Homo sapiens: one gene and its partner. The protein of the gene in region 2 purifies or fractionates together with the protein of the main gene of each other region. This does not show direct contact. Each region holds a gene or a part of one and is shown on either strand. Other genes may lie near its edges.

Region 1 (3,828 bases), on a different chromosome or scaffold from region 2:
TTTCCTTGGAGAAATGCTTTTTTAGTGTTAACTACAATAAATGCTTCAGGGAATAAAACCACAAATAGGATACAGTTCCATTCCAAACAGAAATATAAATGAATTTCACAAATACCAGGTAGAGTTAAGTCCAGTGCCATTACTAAAAACATGTTACTCTATAGAAAGACAGATTATGTCTCATAGTTATAAGGTTTCACACATGATGTAATATTTGAGACTGATCTTGAAGAATATATAGACAGGAGAAAAGCGTAAGGAGGAGTAGGCAGAAATCATTCTTAATAGAAGGGACATCATGCACAGACAAGGTGAATAATTAGCATGGCTATATTTGGGAAAGATAAAGTAAATCACGTTGGCTGGAATCAAGGAAATACATTTCTACACCTGATTATAGCAGCTAAACAAATTTTAAGCCGGTTCCTAGGCCATATAATGGGAAGATATGCAAATTTCAGTCCTAGATACACTACTAAAATTCTAGGCCTGCCAACTAATTTTGTGAACAGTATGGTCTCTGAAACATTACCAACTCAGCGGCAGTATCTACTTACTGGAAGTTATCACCACTGTGGAGATTGTTAGCACGTAGTAAGCCATAGAAAGTCACATGTGTGCTATCTGATGAAACGCTCAGGTCATGTTCCTTTCCTTCTCTGATCATTGTACGTTTAAGAAGACTAGAACATTTCAAAGCCAACTCCAAAGCATCCATCCAGCACCTTCCTAAAAGAACACAGATTCATAAGCACTATAATTTTTAAAACTATGAAACTAGCATGCATCTTAACTTACCCTGTTACCACTATTTCTTTGAGAAACATGCACTGGAAAAGTTAATCTGAACATAACATCTTGCTAGAATTTAATGAAATCTTTCCGTTTTTCAAATGCTTTTCACATACTAAGCACACCACTGATAAATGAATAGTATACAGCATGCATTAGAAACTATACCCAATCTAAAATAAACATACTTTATTTTTCAAATCTTAGAACATTAACATGCAGTATAATTTGAAGGTATCAAGCAAGGTACATAAAATACACTTGAGGATTTATGATTCTACTACAAACAAACTATCTGAAGTAACTGTTTTTGTTAATAGGAGGTCTATCCTCAAGATTAACAACCATTCTACTTGTATGTATGAAACTTTTTAAGTCAGGAAAATGCCTGCATAATGCTACCATTAACTGCCATATTAGTTAAGAGAAACATTAATAGTTTTATTTTTTAAGTAAAAATTTAAAAGTGAATTAGCAGAAAACTTTTCATTTATATTTGTTTAGGGCTCTTAATTTTCATATATATCACTTCAAGATTTGCTGGGAATATCAGCCAAGTAAAGCATCTTCATATTGAAAGCTCATACCTATATTTTAATTTAAAAAAATCATCGGCCAGGCGCGGTGGCTCACGCCCGTAATCCCAGCACTTTGGGAGGCCGAGGCAGGCGGATCACGAGGTCAGGAGATCGAGACCATCCTGGCTAACACAGTGAAACCCTGTCTCTACTGAAAATACACAAAAATTAGCCGGGTGTGGTGGCAGGCGCCTGTAGTCCCAGCCACTCGGGAGACTGAGGCAGGAGAATGGCGTGAACCCGGGAGACGGAGCTTGCAGTGAGCCGAGATCGCATCACTGCACTCCAGCCTGGGCGACAGAGTGAGACTCCGTTTCAAAAAAAAAAAAAAAAAAAAAAAAAATCTGAGGCCAGGTGCGATGGCTCACGCCTGTAACCCCAGCACTTTGGGAGGCCGAGGCAAGCGAATCATGAGGGCAAGAGTGTGAGACCATCCTGGCCAACATGGTGAAACCGTCTCTACTAAAAATACAAAAATTAGCTGGGCGTGGTGGCATGTGCCTGTAATCCCAGCTACCCGGGAGGCTGAGGCAGGAGAATCACTTATACCAGGGAGTCAGAGGTTGCAGTGAGCCGAGATCGTGCCACTGCACTCCAGGCTGGCAACAGAGCGAGACTCCATCTCAAAAACAAAAACAAAACAAAACAAAAAAAATCAGATAAAAGTAAACTTTGGAAGGTTAGAAGATTCCCTATACCAACCTTGTCTAAACTATGAAACATGAAAGCATGAAAGTGAGGACAAAATCCATTATTAATTATTAAGATTTTAAAGTTACCTTGATATCATTTAAGTTTTTCTCTCTCCATATTTGCTTCATGAATTAAGTGTTAAAGGAGGAATAAAAAAGGTTGTACTCGAATCTCTTACATAAAAAAAAACAAAACCAAAACAATGTATATGTCTCATAAATGGTAACATTTAGTAGTAAAATATAAAAAGTATTAAATATATCTTTAAGAGTACCATAAAGACCACTAACAAATAAAAAGGTGTTAATATGTCCATGGAGGATGAAGAAGAAAACTCTGAACTGCTAACTCTTCAGTAAATCACACAATGCTTCCTTTCTATCAGATTTTTGTCTATTAAGTTACTCATATATTTAGCATTCAAAACAATTTATGATTACCATGCTTCTGCTGCAAATGCCATACTAAAAATATATTTCCCCAGAATAATACAAAGTGGCATTAAAAAAACTCTTAAAAATGAAGACCAAAATCCAATCCATCAAAAACTATACTTACCATCTGACTCTGAAGTAGCTCGGATGATCAAATAACTGCTAGGTAAGGGTTGAGTAATGGATCCAACCGCTTCACCTTTTGGACCCTTAATAACAAAATAAACAAAATAAATGGTATAGAGTAATTATTATGAGATCTCATCTTTACACTATCCAATATTATCTGTAATAATCTAAATCAGGTATGGATTATAATCTAAAGGCAAATGAGCTTTAATTTCATCATTCTTGAGAATGCAAATGTTAAGTATTAAGAAAAATTTTCTAACAAATATATCTCCTTAGCAGAAAACTGAACAAATGAATTATCACTTAAATATTATCTCTACATACTGCTTACATACTAAAGAGAACCTAAAGTTTACCATATTAAACCAAATTTTAACAATGTCCATCCCATGGATACAACTAATGAGATAAGAAATACTAAATTTCTAGAAGGCTAAAGAAAGCATGTGGAAATAGAATTATAATTTAAAAAAAGAGAAATGAACTTTAACTGGGTCTAGGGAAAAATAAATCTCCACTTTATAACCAATGACATACACCTGTTTTTAAACACCAACTATATAAGCTGATTTTATTTTTCCAGAAACATGAAAGAAAAAGAAATTCTGTCGTTGTTGTTGGCTAGGGTTGTTTGTTTTAGAAGTATACAATACCAACACTAATTAGTATCACCAATGCTAAACTTAGGTAGACACGAATCTGGAAAGAAAACTAAGTACTGAATTTAAAGTATAATTTTGATACAAAAGCATAATTTTTAAGTTGTTTTCAAAGGGTTCTTTAAAGTTATTAGGTCAAAAAATGAAATAAATTTCCAAAAAGCATAACATTAGAAAGTAAAGATGTAGATTCAAAACGAAAACAGAAAAAAAATTTAATATGACTTTAACAAATACCGTAATAATCTGCATTTTCAAATAGCTTTACAATTTATGGGCCAGTTCCTAAAACCAGTATATAGTGGGACATGGAATCAGACTGCCTGGGTTTCAATCATGGCTCCATGCTAGAAAAACAGGGTTCAATCTCTTTATGTGTACAATGGGAAGAAACTGTATCCTCCTTATAGGTATGAGAATTAAATAAATGATTTCATGTAAAATATTCAAGTACCTGACACAAAGAACTCATAGCTGTTACTATTTCTTAATCACAAACACTGGCTTCTAAAATATTTAAACAATATCCTAAGTAGGTTT
Region 2 (3,828 bases):
GTTCTCACGAGATCTGGTTGTTTCAAAGTGTGTGGCACCTCGGCCGGGCTTGGTGGCTCATGCCTGTAATCCCAGCACTTTGGGAGGCCAAAGTGGGTGAATCATCTGAGACCAGGAGTTCAAGACCAGCCTGGCCAACATGGTGAAACCCCATCTCTATTAAAAATATAAAAATTAGCTGGGTGTGGTGGTACATGCCTGTAATCCCAACTACTTGAGAGGCTGAGGCAGGAGAATTGCTTGAGCCCAGGAGGCAGAGGTTGCAGTGAGCCGAGATCACGCCACTGCACTCCAGCCTGGGCAATGAGAAGGAGACTCCATCTCAAAAAGCAAACAAACAAACAAAAGTGCATGGCACCTCCTCCTTCACACTCTCTGTCTCCCGCTCCACCATGGTTAAGATATGCTTGCTTTCCTTTCGCCTTCGACCATGACTGTAAGGTTCTCGAAGCCTTTCAGCCATGTTTCCTGTTAAGCCTACAGAACTGTGAGTTAATCAAACCTCTTTTCTTCATAAACTACCCAGTCTTAGGTAGTTCTTTTTAACAGTATAAAACGAACTAATACAAGTGGTAAGTCTTTATTAGCTAGAATCTTAGAAATCTCAGTATTAGAAAGGACCTTACGGATCATAACAAAATTAGCCATTCTATGCTAGAACTCTACATTGTGGTATCTAGCACATACATCTAAAATCTCATTAGCTGTCTGACTCTTCCTTTTATTGTCTCCCTGTAGCTTCCACTCACTGACTCTACACTTCTTTACTCATGGTAAAAACCTAGTAATTTCTCTCACAAGTCAATATTCCAAATGCCTAAAGACAATGATCAAGTCCGTAAGTCCTAAATATTCCAGGTTCCTTTTTCTGTTTGTGTTATGACATAGGTGTCCAATCCCTTTTAACATCTGGTTATTATTTTTATATATGATTCTTAACAGCATCTCACTCAACACTGGATACAGAACTTCAAATATGGCTGTACTGCCTCTTTTGACAATAGTCAGGGCAGTACCTGTAATGAGTAAAGGCAGAAGAATTTGTCTAGCAAAGGTACCGATTTCTTAGGATATTTTAATAAGCTTTTTGCTCCGCCACGCTGAGGCAAATAAAACTTATCAAACTAATGAGTTGAAAATGAGTACGAACAATAGTTTCAAAGAAAATGTAATAAATGAAATTAATTTTCTGAGAATTGTCTTTAGAAAATGTCACATTCAAAATCACAAACTTACATAATAAATCCAAGAAAGGCTTTTATCTTCTAAGACATAAATTTTTTCTTTTGTTTTTGAGATAAGGTCTTTCTCTGTTATTAAGCTGGAGTGCAGCGGCAGCTCATGGCTCACTGCAGCTTCGACCTCCTGGGCTCAAGTGATCCTCCAGCCTCAGCCTTCCTAGTAGCTGGGACTCCAGGTAAGTGCCACTGTGCCCATTTAATTTTTGTGTTTTTTTGTAGAGACAGGGTTTTACCATGTTACCCAGGGTGGTTTGGAACTCCTGGGCTCAAATGATCCACCTGCCTCAGTCTCCCAAAGTGCTGGGATTACAGACGTGAGCCGCCATGCCCAGCAAGGTATAAATTTTAATTAAATATTTAAATGATATACTCAGGGCAGTATTCCAAAAAATGGTAATTCCTCAGGCCACAGAAGTAAAATGGTTAGTTCTTTTGAAAGATATATTACTAGCAAGATCTTCATTTTATAAAACAAGTTAAGCACATCTGAAAGCCAGGGGAAGTTTTACTTTTTCACTTCTCTTGTTAGTATATCTTTATGTAACTTTTGTAATTTTAAAATTTCAAAGAGCAAAGTTACTTGTTTGAGCTCAGTTTATCAGCTGTAAAAGACACAGGCAAAGTACTCTAGAAGGTTTCTATGAAGCTATATGGTCTCTGTTATTACTGAGAATTTCAGTATAGAAATAAAGCCAAGACTATTCACAGAAAGAAAAGTATAAGTAGATAATTCAATTTCTAACTAGCAAATTAACAGCATTACAAAATAGCAAGTTTGAAGAGAAACATTTTAAACATGAAAAGAATTCCCAGACAGATTTGGAAAAAGTACATAATTTTAAAAGAACACAGTTTGGTATAAAATTTTTGTCTTTCTTGCTTTGTAAACTATAAACAAACCTTCACAAAGCAACAAAATAATTTCTGCACTAAATAAGAGGGTACACTGTGCAAAAATTCCGAATTTTAATACCTTTTTTAGTCTCCATAAACTTTTCATAATTATCTGGAAAATCATCTTCTGGCTTAGGTTTTTCCACTGGTGCCACAACTGCTTTTCCTTCCTCTTCTTCATCTTCATTAAACCACATTTCTTCATCCTCTTCCAAGGCTTTTGCATCTCTGCGAAATCTGTTACTACGCAATATAGATGGTACACTGTAAGAAATATATCACAAATATTGAGTAATGATTTAAAGTTCATCATCAGATTGAACTGAAGGAAAAATATGTATAACCAAGATGAACTGAAGTAATTTTAACTGACTATAATTTATATCAAAATAATCTCTGTAATGATAGAAGATGTAGCCAGAGAACACTCCAAAATATTTTAGGATGTTGTAAATTAAACTAAATATTCTTCGTAAGTTACAACATGGAGTAGTAATTCAACATATAAATGATATGGGGTAGGGGGGACGCCTTACCCTCCTATTCAACTCTATGCTATCCAGTGATGGAAAGAAAATTCCTCAGTAAATTTCACATGGAAAATCTGAACTACAAACAATTTTGGACACAGTTTTGTAGGCTATAAAAGCAGTATACTTAAACAATACCTGTTCAGTTTCTGATTTTGTCTGTCTTTTTCTTGCTCATATTTAGTCTTCAATCCTTTGAATGTCTGAACATATTCAATCGATTCAAGTGCTTTATAAAAGTTTTCAACTATATGGGCAGTAAGAGACTTGATATCTTCCTGTATAAGCACAAAATTTACATTTAAAATATAATACAATGCTTGTTAGAAGAAAAACTTTAAAATTTTGTTTTGTAGTTCTAAAGCTGATCAAAAAAGGTTTTTCAAAATCACCTTCCAAAATGTAATGTCCTGGTTTCTTTACACATGAGTCAGGACTGCACAGAAAACTTGAAAAAAAAGGAGAAGCAATTTACTGGAGTCCTTTTATAGGACTATAAAGAGCATTCGAAAAGTAAATAGATTTATTTTACATCTTCTATTTTTTGTATATATATATATATATATAGCAGTTTACAATTTAAAAAGCACTTTTACATAAAATTTCATTTGATCTTCACAACAATTCTATGAGATAGGTTTTATTATTCCCATTTTAGAGAAAAACCAAAATTGAGGCTCTAAGAGAGGCTGGATGGTTTGATCCAGAGCACACGGCTGGTTAGAGGGCAGATGTTAAAATTACATTTTCAAAATACTCACGGTGATGGATACCCCAAATACCCGGACTTGATCATTACACATTCTATGCATGTAAAAAATAAATACATGTACCAAATACATCTGTATAATATTATGTATTAATAAAAGAAAAACATATTTTTCAACAAACAGGTCTTATTTAATGACTTCCTGTTTAACTGCTATCAAAATGGGATATGGTTGTGGTGGTTTTCTTTCTGGTACATTTGTTAAGTTTTCAAATGAGCCTAACTCTGCCACATATATCATATAGGAGCTGGCAAAGGCTTGATGACAAAGAGATCTCTCTCAAGCCTTTCCCACATCAGAGGCTGGCTTTCACACACACAGAAGAAGAAAAAACAACAGAGGACACGTGTTACCTAAATAATAAGAAGCAAAGACTTCTCTGACTATATTATA

What was found.
Region 1: the proteins of PPP4R3B (region 2) and OSBPL8 fractionate together in Homo sapiens (co-fractionation; one large-scale study listed by BioGRID). This does not show direct contact.

What each region holds. Positions count from the first base shown.
Region 1 is NC_000012.12:76,392,024-76,395,851, forward strand, and holds part of OSBPL8 (oxysterol-binding protein-related protein 8), read right to left. Parts: intron 2,707-3,828; coding exon 2,622-2,706; intron 730-2,621; coding exon 558-729; intron 1-557. UniProt on the Homo sapiens protein: Lipid transporter involved in lipid countertransport between the endoplasmic reticulum and the plasma membrane: specifically exchanges phosphatidylserine with phosphatidylinositol 4-phosphate (PI4P), delivering phosphatidylserine to the plasma membrane in exchange for PI4P, which is degraded by the SAC1/SACM1L phosphatase in the endoplasmic reticulum.
Region 2 is NC_000002.12:55,562,099-55,565,926, forward strand, and holds part of PPP4R3B (serine/threonine-protein phosphatase 4 regulatory subunit 3B), read right to left. Parts: intron 3,753-3,828; exon of another isoform or gene 3,605-3,752; intron 3,114-3,604; coding exon of another isoform or gene 3,096-3,113; exon of another isoform or gene 3,058-3,095; intron 2,944-3,057; coding exon 2,804-2,943; intron 2,400-2,803; coding exon 2,215-2,399; intron 1-2,214. UniProt on the Homo sapiens protein: Regulatory subunit of serine/threonine-protein phosphatase 4 (PP4). May regulate the activity of PPP4C at centrosomal microtubule organizing centers.